Linked DNA regions of Homo sapiens: region 2 is linked to region 1. A link means that fine-mapping ties the variant in region 1 to the expression of a gene that starts in the linked region. Tissue or cell type: whole blood. Region 1 holds a variant in brackets; the other region holds the start of a gene. Each region is shown on its reference strand, or each on the opposite one. Region 1 overlaps HMGXB3 (HMG-box containing 3). Region 2 holds the start of POGLUT2 (protein O-glucosyltransferase 2).

What was found. PIP is the estimated chance that this variant, and not a neighbour inherited with it, causes the effect. A credible set is the group of variants that fine-mapping cannot tell apart.
Region 2: it holds the start of POGLUT2, and the variant in region 1 is the best candidate, but not a certain one, in a credible set for the expression of POGLUT2 in whole blood (TOPMed, PIP 0.51).

Annotation. Positions count from the first base shown.
Region 1 is chr5:150,021,602-150,026,977 of GRCh38, reverse strand. It overlaps HMGXB3 (HMG-box containing 3), which reads right to left. Exons shown (of 20, transcript NM_014983.3): 7 at 2,298-2,716; 8 at 97-272. It also overlaps the pseudogene RPS20P4. Among named protein-coding and RNA genes, the nearest start is that of HMGXB3, 24 kb to the right of the region's middle. The variant C/A (reference allele first, on the strand shown) is at 2,362.
Region 2 is chr13:102,796,974-102,802,349 of GRCh38, reverse strand. POGLUT2 (protein O-glucosyltransferase 2) reads left to right here and starts at 3,374. Exons shown (of 10, transcript NM_024089.3): 1 at 3,374-3,861; 2 at 5,341-5,376. The coding sequence starts at 3,680. It overlaps BIVM (basic, immunoglobulin-like variable motif containing), which reads right to left and starts at 3,231. Exons shown (of 11, transcript NM_017693.4): 1 at 2,829-3,231. RefSeq lists silencers at 1,605-2,034, 2,065-2,114, 2,675-2,944 and an enhancer at 3,005-3,224.

The DNA.
Region 1 (5,376 bases):
GAGTCTCCCCAAGTCTCTATGTCCGTTCTCAACCCCCCACTCCTGTCCCTTTCCTGTCAGACAGCCCCTCCATCCCAGGTATGTCCCAGCCCTTACCACTCAGGGAAAAGGCCTGCCTGGCCCTGGGCAGTCCCATGCTGCTGCCTCGCCCCACGTTAACTGGGGCTGGCAAAATTGCTCTCATGGGTCTTGCTGCAGCCAGTAATGAGGGCTTGCCCCGTGCTCTGCCTTTAAGCTCTGGAGCTCTGGACCCAGGGGTAAGCAGGTCAGCTCTGAAAAGAATAAGAAGAGAAATCTGGAAATTCTGGAACAAAGGGAAGAAAACCAAAGCGCAATCTCTACATAGTGCTTTCTTAGAGGATAGTATTGGGGTTAAACTGTCAAGCTTTAGACAGATTGAGTTCAAATTCAACCACTAAATAGCTGTGTGGCCCTGGACAAGTAATTTCATTCTTCTGTTAACTTCAAGTTTCTAATATGTAAAATGGAACAGTAATTACCTATACAGTATGGGGTCATTGCGAAGACACAGAAGTGTAAAACGATGTCTACAGCGTGTAATGCCAATCGCTATTATAGCTGTAACATCTAATCTACCTCTAGTTAGAGCATATACTTATGACAGCAGCTTAGAGACCCTAGAGAACAGAGTCCATGTTTGCTTCATCTTTGCAGCACCAATGTTGAGCACATGGCCTATACCACAGAGGAGGCCTCAATAAACATTTGCTAGAGTGATTTACGTGTCTCAAACAAAAGGTCTAAAGTGCACAGCTTCATCCTTTAAATATACAAAACCATCGCCAAAGTATATTGCTACATGATTTTTTTTAAAAAAAGCAAGATGGGGCCGGGCGCGGTAGCTCACGCCTGTAATCCCAGCACTTTGGGAGGCCAAGGCGGGTGGATCACAAGGTCAGGAGATCAAGACCATCCTGGCTAACACGGTGAAACTCCGTCTCTACTAAAAATACAAAAAATTAGCCAGGCGTGGTGGCAGGTGCCTGCAGTCCCAGCTACTCGGGAGGCTGAGGCAGGAGAATGGCATGGACCCGGGAGGCGGAGCTTGCAGTGAGACGAGATGGCGCCACTCCAGCCTGGGCGACAGAGCGAGATTCCATCCCAAAAAAAAGCAAGATGTATTTGGGAGGCCAAGGCGGGCGGATCACCTGAGCCCAGGAGTTCAAGACCAGTCTGGGCAACATGGCAAAACCCCATCTCTACAAAAAAAAAAATACAAAAATTAGCCAGGTGTGGTAGTGCGTGCCTGTAGTCCCAGCTACTCCAGAGGCTGAGGTGGGAAGATCGATTGAGCCTGGGAGGATGAGGCTTCAGGGAGCTGTGTTCGCACCACTGCACTCCAGACTGAATGACAAAGAGAGATCCTGTCTCAAACAATAAAAATAAACATAAAAATAAAAAACAAGATGTAGAAGTATGTATGTTGTGCTATGATTTGTGTTAAAAAAAAAATGGGAAAAATATATATACACACACACACATACATATTTGCATACAAGGTATACAAGGTATTCTTATTTTTCCAGGAAAAGCCAGCCAAAGTTAAAAGTGGAATTGGCTTCTGGTGTTCATTGCGGGCACAATTGTTACCAGTTGAGAACCATTGATACAAATAAGGGTCTTCAGTTACAAGAACACAACTTCCTCAGGGAAGGGATATACACAGAATCCAATTAAGCATTTAAGGAGGAAAAGGGGAGAAAAAGATAGTGACTTCCTCCGACTTGCAAGGTACTTGGTTGCATGTTTTATATACAATCTTCAGTTTGTACAGTCAGCCTGTGAGGATAAGATTTTCTAATATCCAACTCAAGATTCTTCAGAGGAGAGAACTGAGGTGAAGAGACATGAAGTGACAATGCCCAAAGTCAAACAGAAGCCAGAAACAGTCAGAACCAGTACTGAGTTCTCTGACTATAAGGCCAGAACTCTTTCTACAGGATGCTTTAATAAAGATTCTCTTTCCAAATCCAGTATCCAGGACTGGTAACTCATAGTTTTAATACTGCCCAGAGCCTATACCAGCAAGACTCTAATTAATGCTTTAGGGAGACTGACAAGAAGAGATGTGTAAGTAATCTGACAGCAGTACATGAATAGCAGAGTCCGGGGGAAGGGACAATCTTTATATATCTCTAGGCCTTGGTTTCTGTATCTCTAAAACAGGAACCATTGCCTGGTCTCTGCTGCCTCTCTCAGGCATGCTGTACAGACATGAGATAAAAGAAACATGGGGCATTTCCAAAGCCCTATATTATACAAACACACTGACTTACCCTGTAGGTTTTTTAGGAGCAGGGAGTGGACTGGAGGTACTTGTCCCCTCGGATGGTGTTGGTA[C/A]GTCTGCTCCAGGACTGTCATTGTCAGTTGTCCCCAGAGTGACCTCAGGCTGCACACCACTTTTGACGACTGGCGTCTTAGTGACTGCTGTACCACAATTCCCGGGAGCTTCCTTAACCAAAACATGGGCATCGGAGATGATCACTTCCTCCCACTCACTCTCCTCACCTACTTCTCTGGGAGGAGCTACGTTCAGGAGCTGGCTTACAGCTTCCGAATTCTCCAGAGTCAGTTTGGAGGCATTTTCCTTAGAGGAATTTTGCTCAGTGGTGACAGGTTGCTGATTTCTTTTCACCACAGAGCCTTTGGAAGAGACGCCAGAAGCCAATTCCACTTTTACTTTGGCTGGCTTTTCCTAGAAAAATAAGAATACCTTGTATACATAAGGGATTTTACAGTTGATGACATTCACAAACATTCTCTCATTTTTAATAACATATGGGCAATAAATAAGGAAACTAAGGTCCATGAAAGGAAGAAGTTAACTTAAGATCTCAAGTGTAAAACTAGCCTGAATCTAAGTTTTCTGGCTACAGGTTCCTTTCACTATAGCATTAAATGCCTTCGTTTGAATAAAACTGTTCATCTTCTAATGAATTCTTATTGAAAAGCTTCTCCAGGTTTCATCAACCAAATGTTGGCATTTTTTAGGTTTACATTTAGTTTTACATTATTCAAAGGCTACTTCTGTGTGTCTAGAAAGAGGGTGACATACTGCCATACAGGGCCTAAAAGCCCTAAGTTGTTCACCTTGGTGGTCCTTTTATGAGATTCAGTTAATCCCAATGTGGCCGCAACCTCATGTGGACAGATTCAAATTTTCCCATCTCCTTTGGGAAAAATTCTGTTTTTTGTCCCAGATTCTTTAAGGAGAGTCTTAAGAATGACTTGCACATATGTCACATACTTTGCACTGGATCAAATTAACTCATGCATTATTATGTGCTACAAATATTCAAACTCACTAAAAATGGCAGCTGCTATTTCAGCTAGACCTGGCTTTAAAAAGTCCTTGGTGTCTTAGCTTTTATCCAATTAGCACTGCAGTGGAAATAATAGTATTATATATACACACATACGCTTTTAAAAATGTTTTTAAATAGTGGTTGTCTTCAGAAAGGTTTTCTACCCACCATGTATATCATAAAGGGCACTGTAAACTAGGAAACATAAAGGCTGGGTTCTATCAAGCTTAGCTCCACTCCTAATTAGTTATGTGGTATAAGGCAAGCTTCAATTGAATCCTCATTTCCCCTTATGAAATAGCAAAGGGTTGGGCTCTCAGTATTTGTCAACAGGAGCCAGACAGCATTTTGGGTGACCTAATTCTATAGTGTGTAGGACCTCCCTGCACATTACAGAAAGTTTAGTGTCTGTGCCAATGTCACTAAATTTCAATGATTTATCTCCCAGTCGCTTACTACCCAAAAACCCCTCAACATTTCCAAAGCCATCTGCATACTGCACTTCTAGTTCAGAACTGGTAACAGCCAGGCGTCATGGCTCATGCCCGTGATCCTAAGTCTTTGGGAAACTGAGGCAAGAGGCTCACCTAAGCCCAGGAGTTCAAGACCAGTTTGGGAAACATGGCAAGACCACATCTCTACAAAAAAAAAAAAAAAAAAAAAAATTAGCCAGGCATGGTGGTATGCAGCCTGTGTGCCTGTGTTCCCAGCTACTCGAGAGGCTGAGGTGGCAGGATCACTTGACCCCAGGAGGCTGAGGCTGCATGAGCTGTATTCATGCCTGGGTGACAGAGCGAGACCCTGTCCCTGTCTGGAAAAAAAAAAAAAAAAAAAGAGCCAGTAACAGGTGACCTCTTAAGAGCTCTTTGGTAAAGCATTCTCAGATTCTAACACATAATAGCCCCTAAGAGTGAGTTAACATGGAGAAAAATTCCAAGTCAAGTGCACAGAGCTTATTTACTGCAGGAGAGGGAAAATTTAGCAGAAAAACAGGAGACTAAACTCATTTTTTGAGATAAGATTTTTGAGCAAACACTGCCTACTAAGTAGGCTATTTTAGACAAAAATCACCACAGAAAGATTGGGTAATTTAAGCAATCTGAGCAAAACAACTCTACCTGGTGATCTCACATTTCATTAACTCAGCCTACTCATTTTAGATGTTACTTTCAAAATTCTCTGAGGCTGCAGGCTCAGAGAGACCTCAACTGCTGCCATCAGAGAGCCTTAAGAATGAAGCCTTGAGCTAAACAGCCTTATATACTATCTTTTGTTTTATCCAACTCATTGGGAACTATGCCACATATTTCTTGGGCTAATTTTAGCCAGTATGAACTCTAGAACAATACAACAAAAGGTGAGTCATTTCCTGGCTGGCACAAACACACTTGGAGCTTTTAGAGACAAATTATACTTGCTGCCTCAAAAATCAGAATTCAAGAAATCTTATTAATAGATCGGGGTGTCCAATTTTGGCTTCCCTGGGCCACATTGGAAGAACTGTCTTGAGTCACACATAAAATACACTAACACTAACAATAGCTGATGAGCCTAAAAAAATAAAAATAAAATAATCACACACAAAAAAATATAATGTTTTGCTCTTTGAGGAAGACACAGTCATAGGTGGTGCGGAGCTGCGGTCCGCCCGCTCCTGCCCGCTCCTGCTCCTGACTCACCGCTGTTCTCTCTCGCCAAGGAACAAGTCGGTCAGGAAGCCCGCTGCAGCCAAGGCTTTTAAAGACACCGGAAAAACACCCATGGAGCTGGAGGTGGCAATTCACCGAATTCAAATCACTCTAACGAGCTGCAACATAAAATCCCTGGAGAAGATGTGTGCTGACTTGATCAGAGGAGCAAAGGAAAAGAATCTCAGTGAAAGGATCAGTTCGAATGCCTACCAAGACTTTGAGAATCACTACAAGAAAAACTTGTGGTCAAGGTTCTAAGACATAGGAATGTTTCCATAGGAGAATCCACAAGCAACTAATTGACTTGCACAGTCCTTCTGAGATTGTTAAGCAAATTACTTCCATCAGTACTGAGCCAG
Region 2 (5,376 bases), not on the chromosome of region 1:
GGGGGCTTCTATTATTGCATGCTCAGATTCTAGCTTTCTTAAAGTACACTAAGCACAATTTATTACTGATAATACTAATAACAGAATCATTATAGACAATACTGAGCTATAGAGAGGCAGTTTGTCCCTCCACTTAATAGGCTGCAGCTGTCACTGTTTTGACTCATCTTTTATCTCCTTTTGTTTCTCTATTTATAAACTATTCCCAGTGAGTTGACACTTCTAACCTGACCTGTGCAGAGATATTAGAAAATAAAGTTTGCTACATATATATGATCACAGAACTCCTCTGCCTGAAAGCCTCTGCTCTTAGAACAAAAGGCCAACTCCTGATGGTCCCTAGATCTATCTGGTTAGCTCCATCTCATTCCTTTCCCCCACCCCCCAAGCTCCACATTACTTTTTGGTTCTCCCAATACTGTCTCCCTTACTTAGCTCATTCCCATTCATCTTTCCAATGTCAGCTCAAATGTCACTTTCTGGGGGAAACCTTCTTGGCTTCTCAAACTAGGCCAGGTGACCCGGTACAGACTCTAGTACCTTCCTCACACAGGTCTTACCAGGTGGCAATTTTACACTTACTTCTGTGCATATCTGTTCATATGATCAACGTCTGCATCCTGCAAGTCTGGTTTTCCAGATTATTGTATCCCCAGGGCCTAGGATTTGTAGACGTCTCATTCAACAGATAATTTTTAAGTGTTTGCATCATGCCAGGCATTACTGTAGGCCCTCATTTTGATTGATTGCGGTTCCCTCTTCCAGGCAAGTGAGGTGTTGCTATATTAAGATTTACTAAGCCGGCGTGGTGGCTCACACCTGTAATCCCAGCACTTTGGGAGGCTGAGGCGGGTGGATCATCTGAGGTCAGGAGTTTGAGGCCAGCCTGGCCAACATGGTGAGACCCGTTTCTACTAAAAAAAAATAAAAAATAAAAAAATACAAAATTAGCCGTGCATGGTGGCGCATGCGTGTAGGCCCAGCTACTCAGGAGGCAAGGCTGGAGAATCGCTGAACACCAGAGGTGGAGGTTACAGTTGCACCATTGCACTCCAGCCTGGGCGATCAGAGCAAAACTCCGTCTCAAAAAAAAAAAAAAAAAAATTTACTACTAAGAATGACTGCAGGACCTCAGGCTCAACTAATAGCTTACTCATAAAATCATGTCATAAGCAATAGAAATATGGTTTGCTCGTATGCAAAGCAAAAATTTATAAAATGGCAAGTTTAAAAAGCACCGCCAGAGTCATGATTGTTCAAAGTCACTGAACGAAGTGTTCTGTAAAATAAACGTCCATTTGTAAAGCCAATCTTCATCGCCTAGGTTGTAGTCTTTTCAGGTTATATTTTGTCTGTATTCTCAAGTATCAAGTTTATGAGAGAACCAAACATCTCTAAAAACCTCTTCAGTAAAGCCTTTTCGTATAACAAAATACCCTGATCGATATCCTGTATAGAAGGCAACTGAGGAGCAGGGGCATTCCGGTGACCTCGTAAGGGTCGAATATGCGCGGGAGGGCGAAACCAGAGGCGCATAGCCCCCGGCCGAGCTAATGCCACCCTTCCCACCCGGTGTCCTCCCGCGCCCTCCAGGCCCCTTCCTCCCCTTCAGACCTGCGGGTCCCCAGAGCCGAGGCGCCAGCCTGTCAAAAGATACCGGGAGTCCTCCGCGCCTGGCGCCAGCCTCCAGCCCGCGCCCCTGGGGAGGCCGGGAGCGTTTCCACCACCGTCCTCTGACAAGCTCGCCGCTCGGCCGGGCTCCGAGGCCGCCGGGACGGAGTAGACAGTCGCGCAGGCCAAGCCCCGCCGCGCAGAACCAGTGCGCGCGGAGGCGACGCGGGCAGAGAGGAAGGAGCGCGGCTGCGCTCCCTGCCCGTGGCCAACCCAGCCCGCGCCTCCGCGCGTGTCGCGGGCACCCCGAGTCCCCAGCCCGCAGAGCCCAAGGGCCGCCGAGGCCTCCTCGCCCCTACTCCCTCCTCTACCTTCCCTCACCGGCCGGAAGACGAGGCTCTCCGCCAGGGGGAGCGCGCCGAGGCCCGGGGGTGACCGCCTCGAACATGCTTGCCCCGGGCCCCGGGGACGCTGTTGGTGTTAAAGGGGGCCCACGGGCAATTGCTGCATCCGGGCTAAGAGCTGGGGCTCCGATTCGACTGTTTGAGTAAACGAGTCGGTATCATTAATAATGACAATTGCACAAAAGAAAATAGGAAAGAAACCCCCTTTCCTGGCGCCGAACCAGGCCCGCCTTGGCTCGGAGCCACCGGCTCTTCTGGGTTTTCGGGGCAGCTGGCAAGAGGGAGGCAGGCAGAGGAGGCGGCTCCGGGTCCGACTGCCAAGCTGACCAGGGCGGTGAGCCCGTGACTCCTGGCGGCGGCCCAGACCCGGGTGCTGGCGTGCAGGGGAAGGCGACGGCCGCTGCGCGCTGGTTCCCGGACCCTGCCCAGCGTGGCGTGGAGACCGACGGCCGCACAGGGGTCACCGGTATCCACATGGACACCTCCTAATCGAGCTTTGTTCACCAGAGGGCTAGGCCCTTCTTTCCCTGGCGCTTCTCTTCCCCCCGCGACACAGCTCTTCCCCCTACTCCTTCCCGGGAGAGCGCGCACCCATGCAGTGGCCTCCATCTGGACGCCACGGGGCTCGGAGAGGCGATGACCCCTGGCAGCCCAGGCCGGTATCGAATTAAGTAAAAATTTTGAATGCCCAGGTGGCTGCGCGTAGAGCGGCAGCAGGCCGGGCTGGCGGCGCCCAGGTGCCCAGCGGAGGGCCAGGCGCTCAGAGCGCACAGCCGGCCGCCACCTCGGCCCCTGCCCCCCGCCCCGGGGTACCTCTGGCCTGTCGGGTGGGGTCGGGTCGCTGCGGCCGCGGCGGAACCCGGCTCCGGACCTGGATCACAGCATCCAGCGCGCGGCCGGCGAGGCGCCTCCTGTTACCCTGGGGCCGGCGTCCCTCGTCCCATCGGAGCGAGCGAGGATGCTGCGGTGCCCGGCGACAGGTCGTCGGATAGCATTGACAGCACCTTCCTTTCAAGGTGCTTTATGCCTGCCCTCTCCACGTGCGGAGGGCAGGGTGACCAACGCAAAAACCTGAGCTGCGCCTCCAGACCCGTGCGCCCCTTTGATGGGCATCTGTGGTGTTTATCTGTCCCCCGAAAGCGGTGACCGAGAAGTAAATAAATGGGCGAGAGGTGGTAAAATCCTGGCAGTATTTCCGCTCGTCCTGTCGCGAACTACATATCCCAGGGAGCCCGGGGCGCCGGGACGCGTGTCCACCCCGCCATCCACTTGGAGAAGGCGTTACTGAGCCTGGCCCGACGCACGGGCCAATCCCCTCGCCCTACACCTTGGCTGGAACCTGAGACGGATTCGCTCCCAAATGATGCTCCAGTGGCAGGAGCAACTCAAGTTCATCATTGTCCTGAGAGAGAGGAGCAGCGCGGTTCTCGGCCGGGACAGCAGAACGCCAGGGGACCCTCACCTGGGCGCGCCGGGGCACGGGCTTTGATTGTCCTGGGGTCGCGGAGACCCGCGCGCCTGCCCTGCACGCCGGGCGGCAACCTTTGCAGTCGCGTTGGCTGCTGCGATCGGCCGGCGGGTCCCTGCCGAAGGCTCGGCTGCTTCTGTCCACCTCTTACACTTCTTCATTTATCGGTGGATCATTTCGAGAGTCCGTCTTGTAAATGTTTGGCACTTTGCTACTTTATTGCTTCTTTCTGGCGACAGTTCCAGCACTCGCCGAGACCGGCGGAGAAAGGCAGCTGAGCCCGGAGAAGAGCGAAATATGGGGACCCGGGCTAAAAGCAGACGTCGTCCTTCCCGCCCGCTATTTCTATATTCAGGCAGTGGATACATCAGGGAATAAGTAAGTCGAGAAACGGCTCCTTACCTATTTTGGATGGCGGTTAAATCTGTTTCTCCCTTTAAGATTTTTCTTTCCAAGAACTCGTTTCTCCACAGCAGTTTATATTCCAGGATATTTGGTTACCCATTTTTCTCTGTAGCTGTAGAAATTGTTCCGAATTATAATATATGCAATATAATGTATTGTATATAACATATAAAATAATCTCCTAGCAATTTTGATTCAGATTCCCACATTATCAGGGCAAGACAAAGTCCCTCCACTTTGCTGGAAATACTGTTTCTAACTACTTTTCGCATAAGCTATTATAAGGGATTTAAACCTAGTTGTTAGAGACTTGATGGGCTTCATCTTTCTCTGGTGCGGCCCTCAATTTTCAAGGAGACATCTGCAGGTAAGCATGTTTTGAAACTGAAAAAGAAAAATGAAGTACTATTTGAAACTTCAGAGTTCGGAAGGAAAGTATCGAAGTATTAATCTCCTATATGATTGTAACAAATATTTTGTTCCAATGAATTTAATACTTTAACATCATACTTAAAACTTATTTTTATAATTCCTATACTTCTGAAATGATTGTCTCTATTATTGGTGGATGCTGACTGTGTGTATTTCATACAGAAAAAAATACTGGAATAAAAGGTTGTCAAGTAAAAGGCAGGTTGTAAATTTTGTTATTTGGCAAAAGATGATACACTACCTACTACTTTGCTTTTGCCCATGGCTGAGCGTGAGTTTTTTTTTTTTAAGACAGGGTTTCACTTCCTAGCCTAGTCTGGAGTGCAGTGGTGCAATCACAGCTCACTGTACCCTCAACCTCCCAGGCTGAAGCTATCCTCCCACCTCAGCCTCCCTAGTAGTTGGGACTACAGGCGTGTGCCACCTCGCCTGGCTATTTGTTTTTTATTATTATTATTATTATTTGTAGAGACAGGATCTCACCTTGTTGCCCAGGCTGATCTCGAACTCCTGGCCTCAAGCAGTCTTCCCTCCTTGGCCTCCCAAGATGTTGAGATAGTAGGCATGGGCCACAGTGCCAGGCCTGAGCGTGATTTATAATACTGATATTGTAAAGATTCATTGGCAGAGATTTTTCAAAATAAGATCATTATCTTTGGGAGCATCATTTGATCACAAATATCCAGATGTGATAGCATGAAATAAGTTAGTAAGAATATTTTTCCATATGGAATGCATGAGTATGTTCTGTGCTTATATAGATTAATAGTCTTAACATACTCCATTGTGACTGTTTAATGAAACTGTTTCATGTTATCTTGGCCATTGTCATCCTCATTTTTTTAAATCTCTGATCCATCATATTCATTCTGGTACTAAAAGCATAAGAGAAGAAGAAGCAATCATATGTTAGAGGAAGAATGTGGAGGAGAATAATCAAGTTTCCAGACTGAAGAGCATAACCTTTGTGTGTTTGTTCGTTAAAATCTGTTTATCTCCCCCATTGCCTTTTCATCACAGATTCACATCTTCTCCAGGCGAAAAGGTCTTCCAGGT